2 separate regions of the Homo sapiens genome follow, and region 1 is linked to region 2. Evidence: fine-mapped expression QTL. A gene starts in region 2. The other region holds a variant in brackets. All regions are shown on one strand. Distances are from middle to middle. Region 1 overlaps LOC112267955 (a long non-coding RNA gene). Region 2 holds the start of ZNF76 (zinc finger protein 76).

Region 1 (10,481 bases), 57 kb before region 2:
GCCTGCCTCGGCCTCCCAAAGTGCTGGGATTAAAGGCGTGAGCCACCGCGCCCGGCCTCTTTATAGCTTTGATGCCATTTATCTTTCTCTCTCACAGATCCAACATTTCTGATCTGCTGATGGTTCTCTGTTTTATCACACGATATTGGATTTACTATTTTATTTGTTCCAAGAGTTTTTCTGTCATTTTGTGTATTGTAGCAGGAGAGACGGTCTTTTGCCAGCTTGACCCAAACTGCAACAATGCCTTTGTATTAGCATCACTCTGCTCCTTGTACACACATTTAACAACTAATGGTTGAAAACCTTGCAATTCTCAAATTCAGACAGGTGCTAGGCTGGCTAAATTAGAATCACCTGATAATCCATGGACCCACTCCTGGGGGCTTTGAATGCACAGCTCGGCTTGGGAATCACTGGCCCACTAAGTGGGATGAGCAGGAAAGAGAATCATGTACCCAAGACAGACCACTTTCTTTGCAGGATAGTTTGTGGCCAATGCTCGAATGCCCAGGATCTCCAGTAGCCAGGTCACTGTTTATGTCAGTGAATGGGACAGCGGGTGAGTGTGGAGATGCGGAATTTAGGGACTTCTTTCCCTCAGGACTAATAGAGGATGAGAAATTGCAAAGCCCAGTGGATAGAACTCAAGGACAAGGGAGATACAAAAAGTACAATTGAATGGAATTGAGATGAATGATTGCTGCAGGCCTCTCTCCCTCCCACAATGATATCAACTCTGCAAACCCCAGAGATCAAAATGCAGCCAGAAAATTTCCCCATCTAGAGATTTTTAAAAAAACTTTAATTGCTATCCTACTGAGGGGCCAACTCCAGCTTTGAGGAGATATATTTACTGGTTAGATTTTCAGTAATGATTATTATTGTTACTGTTAAGAAGAATACACTCATTGTCTCCAGTGAGCTCACTGTGCTGCACAAACATGACCTCATTTCTCCTCTGAATGGGGCAGGTATTGTTAACTCTGTTTTCCAAAAGAAGGACATGGAGGTCCACTGCAGTCCAACGCCTTGAGCAAGGCCACACATCAAGAGAGGGAGGGATGATGGAACCAGGCCCTGGACCTCTCCCATTTGGGTCCCAGGGCTCTTTGCAGAGATCTAGGTTCATGTGTCCGGTCAGTCCCTTGACTTCACTTAGGATCACAGAGCTGGTTCTGGGGATCCGAGGGGATCAGAGAAGTCAAGATCACCAACATCAGATACCAGGGGAGGAATAATCATCACCTTTCAGTGGCTCAGCCAATTCCATACTCCAGTCTCAGCAATCAAACCCTCCCTGGTTTGGCCCTGGTTTTGCTAGGCTCTAGCCTAACTGATTTCCCTCCCTACTTCCTCAACAACTTAGGGGACTCAACTACTTCACCCCCTTGGATCCACTCAGACTGAGAATCATATTCACATCAGACTTGTTCTTCTGCCCCATGACAAGTTCCTGCTGCCTGGATGTCACTTGGGTTAATTGCAGCACATTTTGGCCACTGTGAAATTCTTTAGGCCCCTGCTTCTGCCATCCCCTAAATTCTGTCCCAGATTACCCTCCCCACCTCCTACCCAAGCTTCAAGCCTCAGCATGCCCAGGAAACCTTCCCTTAACCTTCCAGAAGAGTCCCTCTCCCTCTCTGAACTCCTGCCACCCTTATTCATTCATTCCACAGGTAATCACCGAGGACCTACCATGTGGCAGGCAGTACAGGAGATGATGAGGACACGATAGTGAACAAGCCAGACATGGTCCCTGCTCTGATGGAGCTTACGTTCTAGTTGGGGAGAAGGGAAAAACAAAAGTAAATAATTCAGTAAGTTAAATATTTACAAGTTGTCATAAGCTAATATGAAAAGACCTCCCTAGGCCGGGCACGGTGGCTCATGCCTGTAATCCCAGCACTTTGGGAGGCTGAGGCGGGTGGATTACCTGAGATCAGGAGTTCAAGACCAGCCCGGCCAACATGGTGAAACCCTGTCTCTACTAAAAAATACAAAAATTAGCCGGGCATGGTGGCAAGCGCTTGTAATCCCAGCTACTCAGGAGGCTGAATCAGGAGAATTGCTTGAAACCAGGAGGCAGAGGTTGCAGTGAGCCGAGATCACGCCATTGTACTCCAGCCTGGGCGACAAGAGTTAAACTCCATCTCAAAAAAGCGAAAAGAAAAGGCCTCCCAGTAAAATCCAAAGAAATTAGGGCCTCTGAAACTTACTCTAAATCTGCCCATATCTCTCCATCTTCCACCCTGTCCAAGAAAGAGCTTGGTTTATCGAGGTATGTCAAAAAGGGTTATATGTGGCTAAAGGGTGATGGTAGATGACAGCAGAGGGGTACAAGGTGGGGCAGGAGAGGGAGGCAAGGCTGGACTACACAAGGCCTTGAAGGCTGGGCCAAACGGCGGATTTCATGCTCAGAACAATGAGAAGACATGGTAGGATTTTTGACCAGGGAGTAACATGGGCTGACTTACACTTTATGATGGAGATTCTCAGTGGGGCAGGGGGAAGTGAAGATAGGGGGTATGATTTCACTCCCCTCCCCCAGGGGACATGTGTCAATGTCTGTAGACATTTTTGGCTGTCGCAACGTGGGGAGGGAGTGCTGCTGCTGGCACCTAGTGGGTAGAGGCCAGGGATGCTGCTAAATGTGCTACAATGCATAGGATGGCCCCCCAACAAACGTCAATCACGTTGAGGTTGTATGGCCCAGCTTTAAAACGACTCTGGCTGCCATATGAAGGATAGATTCTCAGCCCCCAAGAGTGGAATTAGGGAGAACACCTGGAAAGCCATTTAAATCAACTTCATATAGCTATAGTATTGACCCACCTGAACCTTTCTCCCAAACCTTAACCTCCCTGATCTGGGGTCTCTGTTTTCTGTTGAGTGACAGCCAGTCAGCCAACCAGCCCAAGTCACCCTGCAAGAAGCCCCTTTGCATTTTAACAGGGACCTTCTGGAGACAATGCTTTAACCCAAAAGAACAGTCAGGCTGGCTGAGCAGCAGGGGGAGTCATGCCAAGGTATCACTGTGCAGAAGCCACCTGCTGTATGGGAGAGGATGAGGGTTTAGAGACCAACTCCAAGCACGCCCTTTTCCTCCATAGTCATAGTCAGCCCCTGTCATGCTAGCTGCTGCCAACTCGGCGCTCTCCTCCCTGACCCTGAGAATGCCAGGCCTGTACGGGCTGCAGAGGATCTGGACACTGAAAGCATGTGATGCCCTGCACTTACTGCGAGTTTATGAGTATTTACACCAGCATGTAAACCTATCATTTACAGCCTCGGCATGTAAATCAACATAGAGTTCAAGGGCTCTCCTTTTGACTCCTCCCCACCAACTTGAGGTTGGTTTTAAGATTTGGGAAGCACATGATTGAGCTGTGGTGACAATGGGAGGTCTGTGGATAAGGAACTCAAGGAGGAGGGGAAGGTCCCTCCTTAGAGGCAGGACTGGCCAAGCAGATGGTGAAGGAAGGAGAGTTTGTCTTCTGTGCCCCAGTTACGGCCCACTCTTCTACTAACACAGAGGTTGTTAACCTTTTGAGAGAGAGAGAGTTTGTGTGTGTGTGTGTGTACGTGTTGGGGTAGGGGGTGGGGGGACGGTTATGGAAATTTTGAAGAAAGCTATAGAAAACCTCTCTCTGGAAGAATGGATAATGTGGACAAAAGTTTGTATACAATTTAGGAGACTCCCAAATCCCCTTAAAGTGACAATATGAACTAATTCACACCAAAGTATAAGTGACTAACAATGTTCAGTTTATTTCCATTTAAATGGGGGAGGAAAGCCCTTAAATCGAGCTGGAGCTCTTACTAGGGAACTTCTCTAAATCAGTGGGTTGAGATACATTCTAAAGAGGCTGGAAAAGCATCTCCTAACTTCTGAAATCTCTGCATACTCCTATTGTACCTACATATAAAACTGAGTTTGGATATAGGGAAGCAACAGAGGGAGGAAGGGCGGCAGCATGTTTTTAGGCTAATTTAGACTCAAAAGGTCATCTGAAACTCCACCCAATGGGTTTTGTTGGGACTTGGGTACTAGATATTCCTGGTCAGCCAAAGTGTCTGATCTTGTTAATGGGCCAGTAAAAATTAGGGGGACAAAGGCCAAGCACTGGCTACTCAAATGAATCTCCTCTGCAAAAGCCGAGCAAGCAAGAGCAACTCGTAATGAGTTGTAACCAAGCAAACAGAGGAATCATTGTGTTTCATTAACTTTAATAGAACTTGTTAGGTTGGCTTCCAAGGGCTGTGGGACGGGAGAGAAAGCCAGACTCATCATCGGGGCTGGGGAGAAGGCTGGCTCTCGTGGACTGCCCCTGCGTTCCCCAGCACCAATCTGGAAGCAGCTGCTCTTGCTACCCCCATGGGCTCCCCAGCCCAGCACGACATCCTGGCTACACAGGCAAGGAGCCCAGGCCTCAAGGACTAATTCTTTCTTGCCAGGGTGGGGAAAGACAGAGACAAAGAGCTTAGGGCAAACCATCTCCAGGCTTGGGAAGGCCACCTGGCTCTGGGCACCTACAAAAAGGCCCCCTTCCAGGGACATCAAAAGTTCAGCTCCAATGCCCATAAGCCCCCACTAAAGGGGGGCTCTGGGCAGCCCAGAGCCCAGCCCAAGGACCACTATCAATGCCAGCCACAACCCTGTCTCCCTCTTCCTTCACCCCAGATCTGTCCAATACCAGAAAAATGAAAAACAAACAAACAGGGCCAGCAGAAAACACATCACCAAACAAACTCGCCTCACATTGTCCTCTGTGGTTGGCCAGGGCAAGAAGCCAGAGGTCGTTTGCCTGGAAAAGCCCAAGTAGCTCCTTAAGCTTGGCCCCTGAACAGTTCAGGGTTTGCCTTGTCTCCTCCAGGGCTGCCTCCTTCTCTTTCTCTCTCTTCCTTCTCCATCTCTCTTTTCCTTCTGTCCATTATTTCCCTCCCTGTCACTTCTTTTTTGTTTGTTTGTTTGTTTGAAACGGAGTCTTGCTCTGTCACCCAGGCTGGAGTACAGTGGCCAAATCTCGGCTCACTGCAAGCTCCGCCTCCTGGGGTTCACACCATTCTCCTGCCTCAGCCTCCCGAGTAGCTGGGACTCCAGGCATCCGCCACCACACCCAGCTAATTTTTTGTATTTTTAGTAGAGATGGGGTTTCACTGTGTTAGTCAGGATGGTCTTGATCTCCTGACCTCGTCATCCGCCTGCCTCAGGCTCCCAGAGTGCTGGGATTACAGGTGTGAGCCACCATGCCCAGCCCACTTCTTTTTATGTCCTCTTTTCCCCGTTTTTCTTTCTGTTCTCTTCCTGCATTCATGATGAAATAAATTCACTAAAAATCAACACATTGAAGAAATCCTGGAGCACACATAAAGCTAATTCATGAAGTGAGCCCGCCATGCTGCTACTTTGCTGTAAAGTTGCCGGGTTCCCGGAGCCTATGCAACACTGTCAGTCGCTTAGCATCTGATGGAAACAGGCTCTTCATTGTCTAGCCCCATCCCACCTTTCAGATCTTCCTCCACACTCTCTGAAATACTTGTCTCTGATTGAACCAATTATTAATTCCCTGAAGACATTCTCCTCTCCAAGTCTTTGCTCATGTTGTTCCTGCCACCTGGAAAGCCCTCACTCTCTTCACCCAACTCCATGTATGAGAATTCTATATATTCTTTGAGGTCAGCTTTAAACCCTTTCCTCCTCCACTGAGTTGTCCTCCTGCTTCCAGCTGGAATTAATCTGTGCTCTTTATGCCCTCATTAGAATTTTATGTTGGCACCTCCATGTTTGGACATTTACCACATTCTGCCTTATATTCCAATTATTTAGATGTGAATTTCTCTTGCCAAATCATAAACTTAAAAGGAGAAACCATGTCATCTTTGAATCCCCACATCCTTTAAGTCCCTGGTACATAGTAAGTGCACAATAAATGTCAAACATCAAACATTGAGTCTGTGGTTATATAGAAATACACATACAATTAGTTCCACATCTTAACTTCACCAATGTGGGCCTATTTCAAATACAATAATTTTATTTGCAAATTTGTTTGAGGCAGTGGGTTCCCTGAGTAGACTCCCAGAGGTCTGGCTTCAGGACTTCACCAAGGGCTGAAGGATGGTATGTTAGATGGCGGCACCTACTGGTAAAGGGTGGCATTACAGCTTGGATCTACCAAAGAGAAGCCACCAAATTTCTCAATCAATCCCAGCAGCATTGGACCGGGGACTGGGGACAGAGGGTAAAGACAGAAGAGCTCCTTCCGGGCTGGGTGCGGTGGCTTACACCTGTAATCCCAGCACTTTGGGAGGCCGAGGCAGGTGGATCACTTGAGGTCAGGAGTTCAAGACCAGCCTGACCAACATGGAGAAACCCTGTCTCTACTAAAAATACAAAATTAGCCGGGTGTGGTGGCGCATGCCTGTAA[TC/T]CCAGCTACTTGGGAGGCTGAGGCAGGAGAATCACTTGAACCTGGGAGGCAGAGGTTGCGGTGAGCTGAGATCGCAGCATTGCACCCCAGCCTGGACAACAAGAGCGAAATTCCGTCTCAAAAAAAAAAAAAAAAGAATGAGCTCCTCTCCCTCCTCAGTAGCCCTTAAGCTGATCAAGAGGTGGAACATCACTGAGTCTGGGTCAGGGGCCCAGGGAAGCCCGTTCTTCTTCAACATACTGCAACTTCCTACAGACTAGATTTTGCAGGACCAGAGCAGGGCACCAAGGAATGTCAGCCTGACTGTGATGTCCCTCAGCTTTGCCAAGTCAGCTCAGAAGTGGAGACGTGGCATGACGAAAAGAGAGCCTCTTGCTGCAAAAGGGAGGCAAAATTCTGTAAGGATATCAACACTCAGCAGAAGCACATAGCTGGCAAACATTCCGACGATCCTTCCTTATTGCAGGTTTTCAGCTTCTCCTAGAATGATTTTCAGCCCAATGGGAGCCCTTCTATGGAAATGTAATAGAAGCTATTGGGCAACTGAGCTTTGTTTTACAACAATTTGCTTTATGGTCTACTTGAAGTTGGTTCATGGATAAATTGAACTTTGCCCCAATACTTCCACCTATCCTTTCCTTAATCCAGGATATCCATAGGAGTGGTATTGGTAGATGAAGTGGTCCTTCTCCACCTCTCCATCTTTTCCTCTGAGGAGGGAACCCAGTGGAGATCTAGGAGAGGATAGCCATAAAGAATAGGGTAGGGGGAGGGAAAGCAAGCCACCTCTTAGCAAAATTAGGAAGTTCCTTATGAGTGTTCCTACAGCCCCCTCCTCTGACACTCACAACACATTTTTTAGGGTGTCAACTGATAACTAAAGTTTTAACTGGCAAAGGCCGTCACCCTCTCTCACAGGAATATTTGTATTTAGGGCCAAAGAACATAAGGTTTAGCTCAAAGGAGTGATTCTCCAATAATGGAATGTTAAGCATCAGTCAGAAAGATCTTTGATGAGGTGGCAGAGAATCCCCCAGGGACTTTCAAGTGGCCTCACCTAGGGTTCTCCTTCCTGGACTTGCCTCCCAGAGTTCATATGAGAGCTGCCTATAGACCCCTTTCATCTGTTCTGGCCCCAGACCTCTGACCACTCAGGCTGCTTCTTGACCAGTCTCCTACCTCTGGCTGCTTTATCTAGGCTGCCATTACCCAGTTCTTCAGACCTTTGGGGATATCCTGAGCTCTGGCTTGGAAGGTTCCAGATACGCATCTGTGTCTTCCAGACCCTGAAAGTCTCTAGCAGGAGTCCTCTCCTAGGCCCCCTGTGTGTACATGGTCTTTCCTCAGTGGGGTTTTCCACACTGCCCTTCCATTGAACACCCTCTGCTGCCCTAGGTCCTCCAGGAAACCTGAAGCATCCTCAGACGGGTGGGAGGCAGGGAGACGAGGTCAGGGAATGCTTCACTTCTCCTCTGGGGTTTGCGTGAGCTCACCCTTCCTTTATTCTTTCAGCTATTCAGTAAATATTCACTGAACACAACTATCTTCCAGGCATATGCTTAGAGCTGGGGATACAGAGGTGACCCAAATGGGTCTTGCCCTCAAAGGTTTGACAGAACTAGTGGAAGGTAAACAGACCATTAGCGATAGCCAGGGCCATCACTGGGATAGGTTTCAAGGACCACTGAGCTCCAAGTCTGCTGGGGCAGTAAAAAGACTTCCCTGCCAAGGTACCATGGAAGCTGGATCTTTTTATTTTTGTTTTTAACAGGGTCTCATTATGTAGCCCAGGCTAGAGTGCAGTGGTGAGATCACAGCTCACTGAACCTCCAACTCCTGGGCTCAAGCAGTCCTCCTACCTCAACCTCTGAGTAGCTAGGACTACAGGTGTACATCACCACTTCAGCTAATTTTTGAATTTTTTTGTAGAGACAGGGTTTCATTATGTTGCCTGGGCTGGTCTTGAACTTCTGGCCTCAAGTCATCCTCCTGCCTCAACCTCCCAAAATACTGGGATTAAAGGCATGAGCCACTACAAGATTTTAAAGGGCAGTAGTTCTCCAGCTGACAAGAACATGGTGCGTGCCAGGCATGGTGTAGCTAGGGTGTAGTGATGGTGAAGTTAGAAGACAAGCATGAAATGTCATTGGAAATAAAGGCTCAGGACTGGCACAGAAGGCCACGTACACTGTGCCAAGCAGCCAGAACTTAGCTCTGTCAGGCAGTGGCCCACAGGAGACACAAGAAGTACCTGAACTGTGGCAGCAGCAAGGGGGATCAGGAGGAGGACTGTCCTTAGGACTCTGAGGAGTCCAAATGGGGCCACTGAGTAGGTTTTGAGCTATTAACCTCAAGATGGAGATCACGGGAAGAGGACAGGTCAGGGGAGGATGTTGTGAGGAATGAGTTCAGCTGGGGGTAGGTTCAGCTTCAGGTCTTGAAAAATATCATCGGAAGTATCTATAAGTAGGTGGAAATATAGGACTAGATAGGAAGCAGAGAAGGGAGCTAGAGCTATAGATCTGCAAATTGAATATGCGGAATTAGAGCTAGGAGAAAAGTGGGGTTAGGGATATAGATTTGGTGGTCACTGGCATATTGGTGGTGCCTGGAGCCATAATGCCCCACTACGTGCTGTCCGCCTATTTCGTGAGGGACCTTCCACACAAGTCATCATCAGTAACACTCCAAACATCAGTAACAGAAGTTTATCCTCCCTATTTTCCAGATGAGGATGATAAAGCTCAAAGAGGTGAAGAAACTTGCCCAAGCTCACCCATTGACGTGGCTGGGATTTAAACTTGGGACTATTTGACCACAAAGCCAATGTTCTTTCCTTCACCCTTGCTGTCCCTCAGAGAGTCCCCTAGGGAGGTCATGTAGAGTGAGAAGTGAAAAAAGCCAAGCTAGAAGCCCAAACTCTCCAGCATGTAAGAGGCCAGCAGAGAGAAAGCAGCCAGCAGGAGATGCAGGAGAAGAAAGTGCTCCAAGAAGCGGAAGAAGAATGTTCAGAGGTTTTGGATGAGGCAGAGATGTCAGGCTAGATAAGGACCGGCAAACAGCCCTGGATATGAAGACGTGGAAGTCGCTGGAGACTTTGGGGGAGGGGTGGCAGAGGGAGTCTGGGACAGAATGCATTAGGGCCAGGGATGAAAGGGAAGCAGTGTCATGGAGACCTAGGGCAGAGAAGTTGGGAGCCTGGAAGGACAAGAGGCAGCAGGGTCTGGGTTACTTCCCTGTTGCTACTATAGGATGCTGCAGATCTTATTGTGTTTACAGGGGGAGCTGAGGTGAGACATTCAGGCAAAAGAGGGGATAACTGACAGAGCCAGCTCCCTGAAGTGGCAAGAGGGGATGAGATCCAGGTACATGTACATGGTATTAGGTTTGGCCAAAAGGATGGACCCCTCTCCCAGCAGTGGAGAGAGAAGGGAGCAGGCGATAGGAGGCTCACGTTAGATGGCTCCTGGCTTTTTGGAGAAACAGGAATTGAGGATGCTGATTGGAGAAGTATGGGGGCTGGGGTTGGCAGAAGGGAAACAAGTTTGGGAGGGCAGCTGTGTGGAAGTGGACAGGGTGCAGGCCTGGGGTGGCTGGAGATTTGCCTTGTGATGTGCAGGGGTCTGGAACCACACATCGGTGATGATGCCAGTTGGCAGGGTAGAGATTTTTGTTTCCTTAGTGAAAGCAGCTGGGGCACAGGTGGAGAGGAAGCAGGTGGCAAGGTAACTCAGGAGTGGATGTGGGCAGAGAGGAGGGGTGGGAGGAAACTGGGGTGAAGGGCCAAGGGAGCTAAACTGGAGGTGGCCTAAGTGTCTGGAGGAGAGGCTGGAACAGGTGTGGGCAGCTTGGATTGGGTTCCCTCTGCCCCATGTCTTGGCAGGGCTGCCTGTGGACCTCTCTGTAAAGCCAACACTAAGGGCCTGGGAACAAGGTACTCCTAAAATCCCAGCGCTGGGAAACAGACTTTGAGAGAGGGTTACTTCCAAGCCTCTGCCTATATGGCAAAATGACTCCTGAGCTACCCTGAAGGAGTGCAAAGCAAGGAC
Region 2 (9,556 bases):
CTCATGTCTATAAAAATAAAAAACAGGTAAAGGATTGATGTTGCACCTTATCTCCTTCTACCATTAGGTAATATTAATCCATGAATACCTGAACTAATTGGGGAGAAACACCATATTTCTCATTAACAGATGCATTTTCAATAAAAATTGTACTTTTTAGGTTTCACAAGTCATAAAAATGTTAAAAATATTTAGGAAAATTTAGTATTTAGTAATATTTAGTAAAAAAAAAAAGTTTAGTAAGTTATATACTAATGATTACAGGAAGTGAATGGAATTCAAAGTATAAGGAGAAAGAGAACCATATAAAATTTCTGTTGAAGAGCTTGTTCATATATTTTTAAGTGGATGATGGTAGGCATTAGATTTTTAGGGTACTTGGAATCCACCGGATACTTTTTTTTAATGTGAGACAGTCTCACTCTGTAGCCCAGGCTAGAGTGCAGTGGCACGATCTCAGCTCACTGCAACCTCCGCCTCCCGAGTTCAAGTGATTCTCCTGCCTCAGCCTCCCGAGTAGCTAGGACTACAGGTACGCACCACCATGCCCGGCTAATTTTTGTATTTTTAGTAGAGACAGGGTTTCACCATCTTGGCCAGGCTGGTCTCGAACTCCTGGCCTCGGGATCCGCCTGTCTCAGCCTCCCAAAGTGCTGGGATTACAAGCATGAGCCACTGTGCCTGCCCTGCCAGATACATTAAGAATGATGTAGACCAAGTGTGGTGGCTCATGCCTGTAATCTCAGCACTTTGGGAGGCCAAGGCGGGCGGATCACGAGGTCAGGAGATCGAGACCATCCTGGCTAACACCATGAAACCCCGTTTCTACTAAAAATTAGCCAGGCATGGTGGCGCATACCTGTAGTCCCAGCTACTCGGGAGGCTGAGGCAGGAGAATTGCTTGAACCTGGAAGGGGAAGTTGCAGTGAGCTGAGATTTCGCCACTGCAGCACTCCAGCCTGGTTGACAGAGCGAGACTCCGTCTCAGAAAAAAAGAATGATGTAAGTCTTAGTTTAAGATGTCAAAATTTGAAATTGTATCCTCTATAAGTATTTAAATTAATGAAGGAAAATTTAGGTATCAACTTAAAAATGAACAAGAGGTACATAGCTCTTCAAAATTCTTTTATGGGTTCATTCTAAAAAATGTCTGAAGATCACCAGCCTATATGTTGAGTGGAAGGGATAGGAGAGAAACTGCTAGCAATGGTCTTCAATACTGCCCTCCAAAATATCCTCACCAATTCTCCTGAGAACCTGAAATTACCTTCCATTAGGATCATTACTTCAGATTCAGACACTGTTTCCCAGAGCTCTTGTTAAATGTATAATTGCAGAGGTGACTGGCCATCAGATTACGATCCGTAAGGAATGTGAGAAAAGACAGATATATATATACAGAGAGAGCTATGGAAAAAGGGTGGTTGGAGAGGGACAAACTCAGGTACAGCCTGAGTTCTATTCCCTGCGGTATTTCTAACCCTCAATTCATATTATAAGAGGAGCTACTTAATCTTCTCTCTGTATCTATAAGGTACTTTTTCTTTTTCTTTTTTTTTTTCTTTTTTTGAGACGGAGTCACACTGTTGCCCGCGCTGGACTGCAATGGTGCGATCTTGGCTCACTGCAACCTCCGCCTCCCGGGTTCAAGCAATTCTCCTGCCTCAACCTCCGGAGTAGCTGGGATTACAGGCGCCCGCCACCACGCCCAGCTAATTTTTTTGTATTTTTAGTAGAGAGGGGGGGTTTCACTATGTTGACCAGGCTGGTCTCGAACTCCTGACCTCGTGATCCGCCCGCCTCAGCCTCCCAAAGTGCTGGGATTACAGGCGTTTAAGCCACGGCGCCCGGCCTATAAGTTATTTTCTATGGGAAATAACTTGTCAAACTTCCACCAAAAAGGAATGGAAAGAGGGCAGCATAGTGGCCAGGCAGTTTATTTCCATACTAGGAGATACAGAAGGGATTAATTCTAACCGTAGGAATTCTAACCATCAAATGTCACTCACTGGCCTACCTAAACTGAACTCTGGTCCCAGCCAGAACAAGTCAGGAAGAGGGGATGTCTAAGACCGAAAGGGGGGCTTTCTAGTTAAGCTCTTCAGGCAGGAGAGGAAAAGGATGCCCGCATCCCCAAAGACACCTTTAGCTACCACAAGCCCCAAACCCCGTACTTTGTAACTGTGTCTAGTTTACGTCCTTTAAAAATTATTCTTATTAAGTTAAATTGTTTTCGGGGCGGGGAAGATACAAAAGAAACCAGTTAAAGTCTGAAAGGATAGAGAGGGGAAAGTTTCTCACCTCATTCTTCCAGCCACCCAGTTCCTCTCCTAAAAGGCAATCTTTACCAGTTCCTTCTCTAACGCCCCTCCTTTTTAATTTGATTTTTTACCGAAAGCTCGCTCCCTTTTAATTTTCCCTCAGGTTTCTGAAAATTTCCCAATCGCAGCCCCTCCCAGCAGGGAAATAGTAAAGGGGCTTGGTTTTTATGTTCAACCCAAAGCAAGCCTACAAAAGGGAGTAGTCGGTTTCGAGCCTGACGGTGGAGCTGACGCGGGAATGAGAGAGAACCTGAGAAGACCGCCAGGGCGCCCTCCCTGCGGAGGCGAGTCCCTCACCGCCCCTCTACATCGTCCTTTTCAATAAGGAGCTCTTAATACCTGCAACTGCTTCCTTCAAGGGGTGGCTGGAAGATCAGTAGGCAAGGCCTGCGGACTGCGCACCTTAAAGCGCTTCGGGACCGTAAGACAGTGAGTGCTGAGCGCGCGGCCGGGAAGAAGCCTGGAGGCTCTGAGCTCGGAGGACAGAGACCGAAGCCCCAGGGCCTGCGTCCCTCACAACCTGCGCCTCCTGTCCTCCCGCGCTACTCCCGAAGCGCACCTTCTCGCCCGCAGGCCGCAGAAGTGATGACGCAAAGCCCTCGGGGCCTCCGCCACCTCCTCACGCTTCTGCTGGACCGAATCCTTGGAATGGACAGGTAGCGGTTCCCGATTGCTATAGCGACGACCCGGCTCCGAGCCGCGCCCAGGCCCTGACCCGGGCGTCGTGACGTCAGCACGCCTTCCCTGGGCGCTCAGCCTCGCTGGCCATGCGTCACCCCGGCCTTGGTGGGGGCGGGGCTCCGAAGAGCTCGGTTCAGATCCCGGCCGCCTGGGCTCCAGGAGCCCCGGAACCAGGATAAGTTGGATGGCTGCCGCGGCGAAGCGGGGGGCGGGGTGGACCGTGCCCGGTATTTTCTATACGGGTTCCGGGGCCCGGTAGAGGCGCGCCAAGAGGAAAGGAAAGTGCGGCGGCCCTGGAACCTGGATATCGCGCGAGGCAAGCTGCGCGCGGGCGGGCGGGCTATGGCGCAGGCGGGTTGTGGGGCCGGCGCTGGTGGCGGGGCCCGGTGCATGGCGGTCTGTCGGCGGAGTCGCCCTCGGGGGCTGTCAGGTTGGTGGCTGCGGGAGGAGTGGGCCAACCATGCCCAGGGCGGGAGGCCGGGCGGGCGCAGGACCCCGGGAAGGTCCCGAGCCCGGCGTGCCCACCTCCCTCCGGCCCTAGCAGGGCGGCCTGGCCGCTGGACCGCGGCCGGGCCCCCTCCCCCACCCAGGGTCCCTGCCCCTCTTTTCCGCCTTGCGGCTCCTCCCCCGTGACTCCCAAACCTCACCCCGTGACGGCGCCCGCCTCCACCCTTGTGACCCCACACCCCACCCACTGACCCCAAGACCTCACCAGGTAACCGTTGGTTATTATTCATTGGCTGCTAACCCAGGAATTTCCCCAGCACTTCTCAGAGACCCACCAACCAGTGACTCCCTCAGTTTTAATCCGGTGACTCACATGACCCTGAGATCCCCACACTCCTCCTTAGTGACCCCCAAACCTGGGTAACCCTCCTGGCCCAGTAACCCCCCCGATTCTACCTTGTGTTCCCCACAAACTCGGTGACTCCCCTCAAAACTCTGCTGGCGACTCCTAAGCCCTACTCCAATAGTTTTCCACGCACTCACCTTGTACACAACCCTCAGTATCTTTATCCTGTAGCCGTATGACCCTCGTTCCACGTCTGCCTTTATCCTAAAATCACCCCCACTGGCATCTCTCTCTGCGATCCCAGCCCTTCAGTGTCAATCAGCACATGACTTACAAGCGTCCAGCACCTTTCTGGTGCTAAGGAGGATATAGAGATTAATATGAAGTAGTAATAATTGGAGGCATCAGAGAATTCTGGATCAATCCAGAATCCAGTCAATCCAGTGTGTGGTCCCAGCTCTGTCACTGCTGTGCTTTAGGGACCTGTGAGAAGTCCCCTCCTCAGTCTGGACCTCAGTTTCTCATCATGACTGTGATGAGGTTGGGTTAGATGATCTTTGAGTTTCCTTCCGTCTGTGAAATTGTGAAATTATGCAGTTCTCAGTCAAGATAATAATTTTTTGCAATCATTTTTGTACCCCACCCTGGAAATTTCCTCTTGTAACCTCATCCCAGGATCTGCTTGCATCATGAACCTTACTCCCTCATTCCCGGATCACCCTCTTCACTCTTCATAGTGCATACCCATTTCCCTTGATCAGGCCCCATCAGTTAACATGTTTGCAAAGCAGTATAGCAGAGTGCTTCATTTGGGGGCATTGAGTTCATAACAAACCTAGGTTCCAGACTGATTCTGGCCCTTCAGCTATGGGACTTTTGGTATATTATTTAGCCTGTCTTAACTTCAGTCTCCACCTCTGCGAAGGGAGAAAATAGTAGTGCCTGACATAACATATGTAAAGCACCGGGCACCATGCCTGGCTCATGGGAACCCTTAGCATAAGCTGTTGTTAGAAATGAGAAGCTGCTATGGATCTTACTCTGTCCTGAGTGCTAGGGATTTAACAGACTGAACATGTGGCCCATACCTTGCATTATGTTGCTACTACTGACATCTTGGAATCCCTATCTTCTCATCTCTGCTGTAGCCTCACTTCTCTGGTTCTTACCCTGATTTTGCCTCAATAACGATTGGCTTGCTGAATACCTACTGTGTGCCAAGCTCTGGATATATAAGTTAAATTTACGTCTCAACAGCCCCAAGAGTTAATTATTATTATATCCACCATTTTCCCTTCCCATATTTTTGTTTGGTTGGTTGGTTGGTTTCAGAGAAATGAACCAGAAACTCTCACAGCTAAGTAGCAGAGCTAAGATTTGAACCCACAGTTTAAAAAAACAAAACAAAACCCTACTCCATTGCCTGTCTTTCCCCCAGACTTACTCAACCTCAGCTCCTTATTCCTTATTTTCTAGTAATTCCTAAATACAACATCAGCTCGTTCCTTGATCCCTAAGGTTTCTGTTCTTGAGCTCCTAGCCTCAAGAGATCCTCCCACCTTAGCCTCTCAAGTAGTTGAGATTATAGGCGTGAGCCACCAAGACTGGCCCTGACCCCCAAGGTTTCTATTACCGTTTGCCATGTAACTTGGTGACTTTCTCATCCTGCTGTTCATGACTTTTGATCTCATATCCCCTGAAGCCCCTGCACCTTGTAGGGGAGGGAAAATATCTTCTTAGGTTCATGGCTTAGGCCCCTATAACAACAGATTTAATAAGAGAAGATTATATACATTTATTTAATGTAAGTTTTATGTGACAGGAGCCTTCATAAGGAAATGAAGACCTAAAGAAATGATTAAACTTGTATATTTTTATACTAGATCTGATGAAGAGTGGATAGTTGTGGAAAAATACAAAAAGGGTAATATCAAATAGTAATAAACTGGGAGAAACTTAGCAAGGCCTGTTTGTTCAGACTCTTCTCTGTGTCCCTGTGTCTTCACAGATAAGGGTGCTTCTTTCCTCTGAGTATAGGGAGGGCACCTCTTTATGAGGAGGGTATTATGACCTGCTTCAGGGGAAAGTCAGAAAAATCCTTCCTAGGTTTTGTGATCTGCTTCAGGGGAGAAGAGCCTCAGAGAAAGTGAGAGTGACCTTCCTACTGCCATTTTCTCAAGTTGCCATATTTTGGAGTAGTGTCTTGAACCCAGTCAACTTCTCTCTTCATCCTTTGCCCAAATATCTCTTGTTCTATGAATCTTTGACGCTTCCAGCCCTTTCCCTGTGAACTCACTCACCATACAGTGTCTCCCACCTCACTGGCACTTTACCCCAAATCCTTTCATCTTGTTAAGTCCCTTAGCCCCAGGAATCCACAAGTCTGTATGCTCTAAAACCATCTAGCCCAGTTGCCTTTCATCCTATTTTTTAGTCTCAGTGTTCTACTCCCACCACCCCACCTTCTGCCATCCTCAGCCACATTCTGTGACCTGAAACCTTCATATAATTTGTCCTTCATTTAGTGACCTCTTGATGTGACTAGCTTCAATGGAATCGGCTCCTTCCATCCCAGCATGAAGCAATCCTGTATAACTTGCACACCCTCCCATTCTAAGGCCTCTCCTCTCATACCCTTGCCCAGTATCCTGTGAGATCCTGCCTCTCAGATTCCTCCCTCACCTTTTCAAACCCGGATTGTCTTTCACCCTTCCACAGGGCCTCCTCTTCCTGCCTTCCTCTTATTTGTCCCCTCAGCCATCCTCACCTCACCAATCTTGATAATTGATTACAATATAAATCTCCCTTCCATCTCAGGTCTGCTCCTTTCTTCCTCCACTCTCTTGTGCATCTATCTCCAGGGCCATGCGTATGCCCCTGCTGCTTTCAGCTCTGCTTCCTTCATATGCTGCACTGTTCCACCAAACTTCATCAGTCTCTTCGGTTTATCCAGAGAACTACACTCTTCTCTGGGAACTTCTGATGACTTCTGATAATAGATCACCAAAGGATCTTGGTTTTTTAGAGGGCAGGGAGAGAGCCCTTTGAAGTCCTTCAGAATCAATCTAGCTGTGTCTCCTGGACACCCTCCCACTATCCTATCCTGTTATGAAGCTGCTTGCTGTATATGCCCTCAGAGTAGAATGCTTTGGGTGTCAGCTTCTGCAGGCACTGAATTAGCCCCATTGTTTTCCAAGCCCTGGGAAAACTTGATAATCCCCAACCACTGAAGTCTGAAGAGTCAGTAGCAAAATGTGACATCAAAGATCCACATCCAAAAGTCTATTCTGTGGGTCACCAAATTCCCAGGTCTCTTATAATGTACTTATTGGCTGTGCAGCAATAAATACAGCAGAAACTAAAACTAGAGTTGAGGAAAGGGTATACCCTGGGTTCTACAACTGCTGTGGGTGGATTTTAAAAAGGAGTTCTTGCCTTAGATTTGTTTACTTAGGGCACAGAACTTATTCTGCCTTGTATTTGAGTTATTTGTGTACTTTTCTCAACCCCACTCTGTGAGCTCTGTGAGAACAGAGACTAGGTTTTCTTTTTTCTTTTCTTTTCGAGATGGAGTCTTACTCTGTCACCCAGGCTGGAGTGCAGTGGTGCAGTCTTGGCTCACTGCAACCTCCTCCTCCTGAGTTCAAGTGATTCTCACACCTCAGCCTCCCAAGTAGCTGGTGTTACAGGCGCCTGCAACCATGCCCAGCTAATTTTTGTATTTTTAGTAGAGACAGGGTTTCACCATGTTGGCCAGACTGATCTCTAACTCCTGACCTCAGGTGATCCACTCGCCTCAGCCTCCCAAAGTGCTAGGATTACAGGCATGAGCCACTGCACCTGGCTGGTTTTCTTTATCTTCTGTCTTCATCTCTTCCCTCACATTTAGCAGGTAGTCAGTACTTACCTGTTGGATTAAATTAACTCACTCAGAAATTCTGCATCAGGTGTACAAAAGTAAAAGCAGTTCATGTCTACATTCATTTTGTGGACACAACACCCCTCCCCAAAGTTCTCCAAACATGATAATGGGCATGTCCCTTGATTTAAACGTCGGTAATTTAGACACTTCCTTTTTTAGTCATTGCTCGGGTGGGGGAATGGGTGTAAGTGCTTTTCTTTTTCTACTGTATTTCTGGTAAGATAGGTTGTTTGACGCAGTTGCTCAAATACAGTGGTAACAGCATCAGGGGCTGTCTTATATAAATCTGTTCTCAAGAAAACAGCTAGTTTGAAATATTTAGTGTGGGTTGCAGAGACGATTAAGGAACAGAGGAAACCAAGGAGGCAAAATGTTGGTAATTTTTGAAGTTGGATAATGGGTTCAAGAGGTTCATTATACCATTCTTTCCATTTTTGTGTATGTTGGAAATCCATTATAAAAAGATTAAAGGCAGGGGCAGCTAGGTGAACAAGTGCAAATTTAGCACTGTTCCTTGGAAAACACCTCAGAGCAAATGAGCTACTGTTTCTGAATCAGTACTGTTATCTAGGTTAAGTAGTATATTTAGTCCTAACCTTTCTCTGACCTCTTCTGTTTGTGAGATATCAGGATGCTAAATTTAAAAATTAGCACCCTGCAGAATTCTGTACCTAGTGGCCTGGGAATTGTAACATCCTGGCATCAAGCACCTGTTGCACTGCTTCTCAGCTTAGGTATGGTTTCTGGTGGAATAGGGCTGGACTGGACCTGAGAAGAGGGTGAGGCAGTAAGGAGGAAAGAGGGACTGAGGGCTGGAGAGAGACCAGAGCTCTACTAGGGTCTTCCCCTTCTTGCCTAAAGGTTTCAAGTTACTGGGAGATCCTAAAGGTATATATATTCATTCATTCACTGATTCATTCATCCCACAAATATTTGGTGAATATCTGCTGTGTGCCAGGTACTTTTCTAGGTACTGGGAATAGAGCAGTGAGCTCACTGTTTGAGGAATGGACAGGGTAGAGACAGACAATAAACAAATAAGTAAAATATATATTGAGAAAATTAAGCAGAGAAGGGAGATAGAAAGTGCCAGGAGTAGGCCAGGTGCAGTGGCACACACCTGTAATCCCAGCACTTTGGGAGGCTGGGTTGGGTAGATAACATGAGGCCAGGAGTTTGAGACCAGCCTGGCCAACATGGCGAAACCCCAGCTCTACTAAAAATACAAAAATTAGCCAGGCGTGGTGGCAGGCACCTGTAATCCCAGCTACTCGGGAGGCTGAGGCACGAGAATCACTTCAACCCAGGAGGCAGAGGTTGCAGTGAGCTGAGATCACGCTGCTGCACTCCAGCCTGGGCGACAGAGCGAGACTCTGTCTCAAAAAAAAAAAAAAAAGAAGAAGAAGAAGAAGAAAATGCCAGGATTCTGGGTGTTAAAATTTTAAATAGGGTAGTTGAAGAGGTTCCCACTAAAAAGGTAACATTTGAGCAAAGACCTGAAGGAAGTTAGGGGGTAAGTCAAGCATACATCTAGGGGAAATTTATTCCAGTCAGGAAGAACAGCAAACACAAAGGCCCTGAGGCAGGAATGTGCCCTATATATTCAAGAAACATGAGGAAGCCAGCCAATACGGCTGCAGTATATTAGTGAGAGAAGAAATGGCAGATGTTGCGGTGGGGGTGAATTGGGGGCAGATCACACAGGCCACTGGCTTGTAGTGTGAGTTGTGAGTGAGATGGTAGCCATTAGAGAATTCTAGGCAGATAAATAACATGGCCTGACATATTGAAAAGGTCATTGTGGCTGCTGTGTTGAGAATAAGCTATAACGGGGCAAAA

What was found. PIP is the estimated chance that this variant, and not a neighbour inherited with it, causes the effect.
Region 1: its variant is fine-mapped to the expression of ZNF76 in whole blood (TOPMed, PIP above 0.99).

Annotation. Positions count from the first base shown.
Region 1 is chr6:35,199,103-35,209,583 of GRCh38, forward strand. LOC112267955 (a long non-coding RNA gene) reads right to left here. Exons shown (of 3, transcript XR_002956343.1): 2 at 1,699-1,781. Among named protein-coding and RNA genes, the nearest start is that of SCUBE3, 9.6 kb to the right of the region's middle. The variant TC/T (reference allele first, on the strand shown) is at 6,432.
Region 2 is chr6:35,256,410-35,265,965 of GRCh38, forward strand. It overlaps ZNF76 (zinc finger protein 76), which reads left to right and starts at 3,326. Exons shown (of 14, transcript NM_003427.5): 1 at 3,326-3,432. It overlaps SCUBE3-AS1 (SCUBE3 antisense RNA 1), which reads right to left and starts at 3,046. Exons shown (of 4, transcript XR_001744102.2): 1 at 2,881-3,046. RefSeq lists silencers at 3,309-3,428, 3,439-3,758.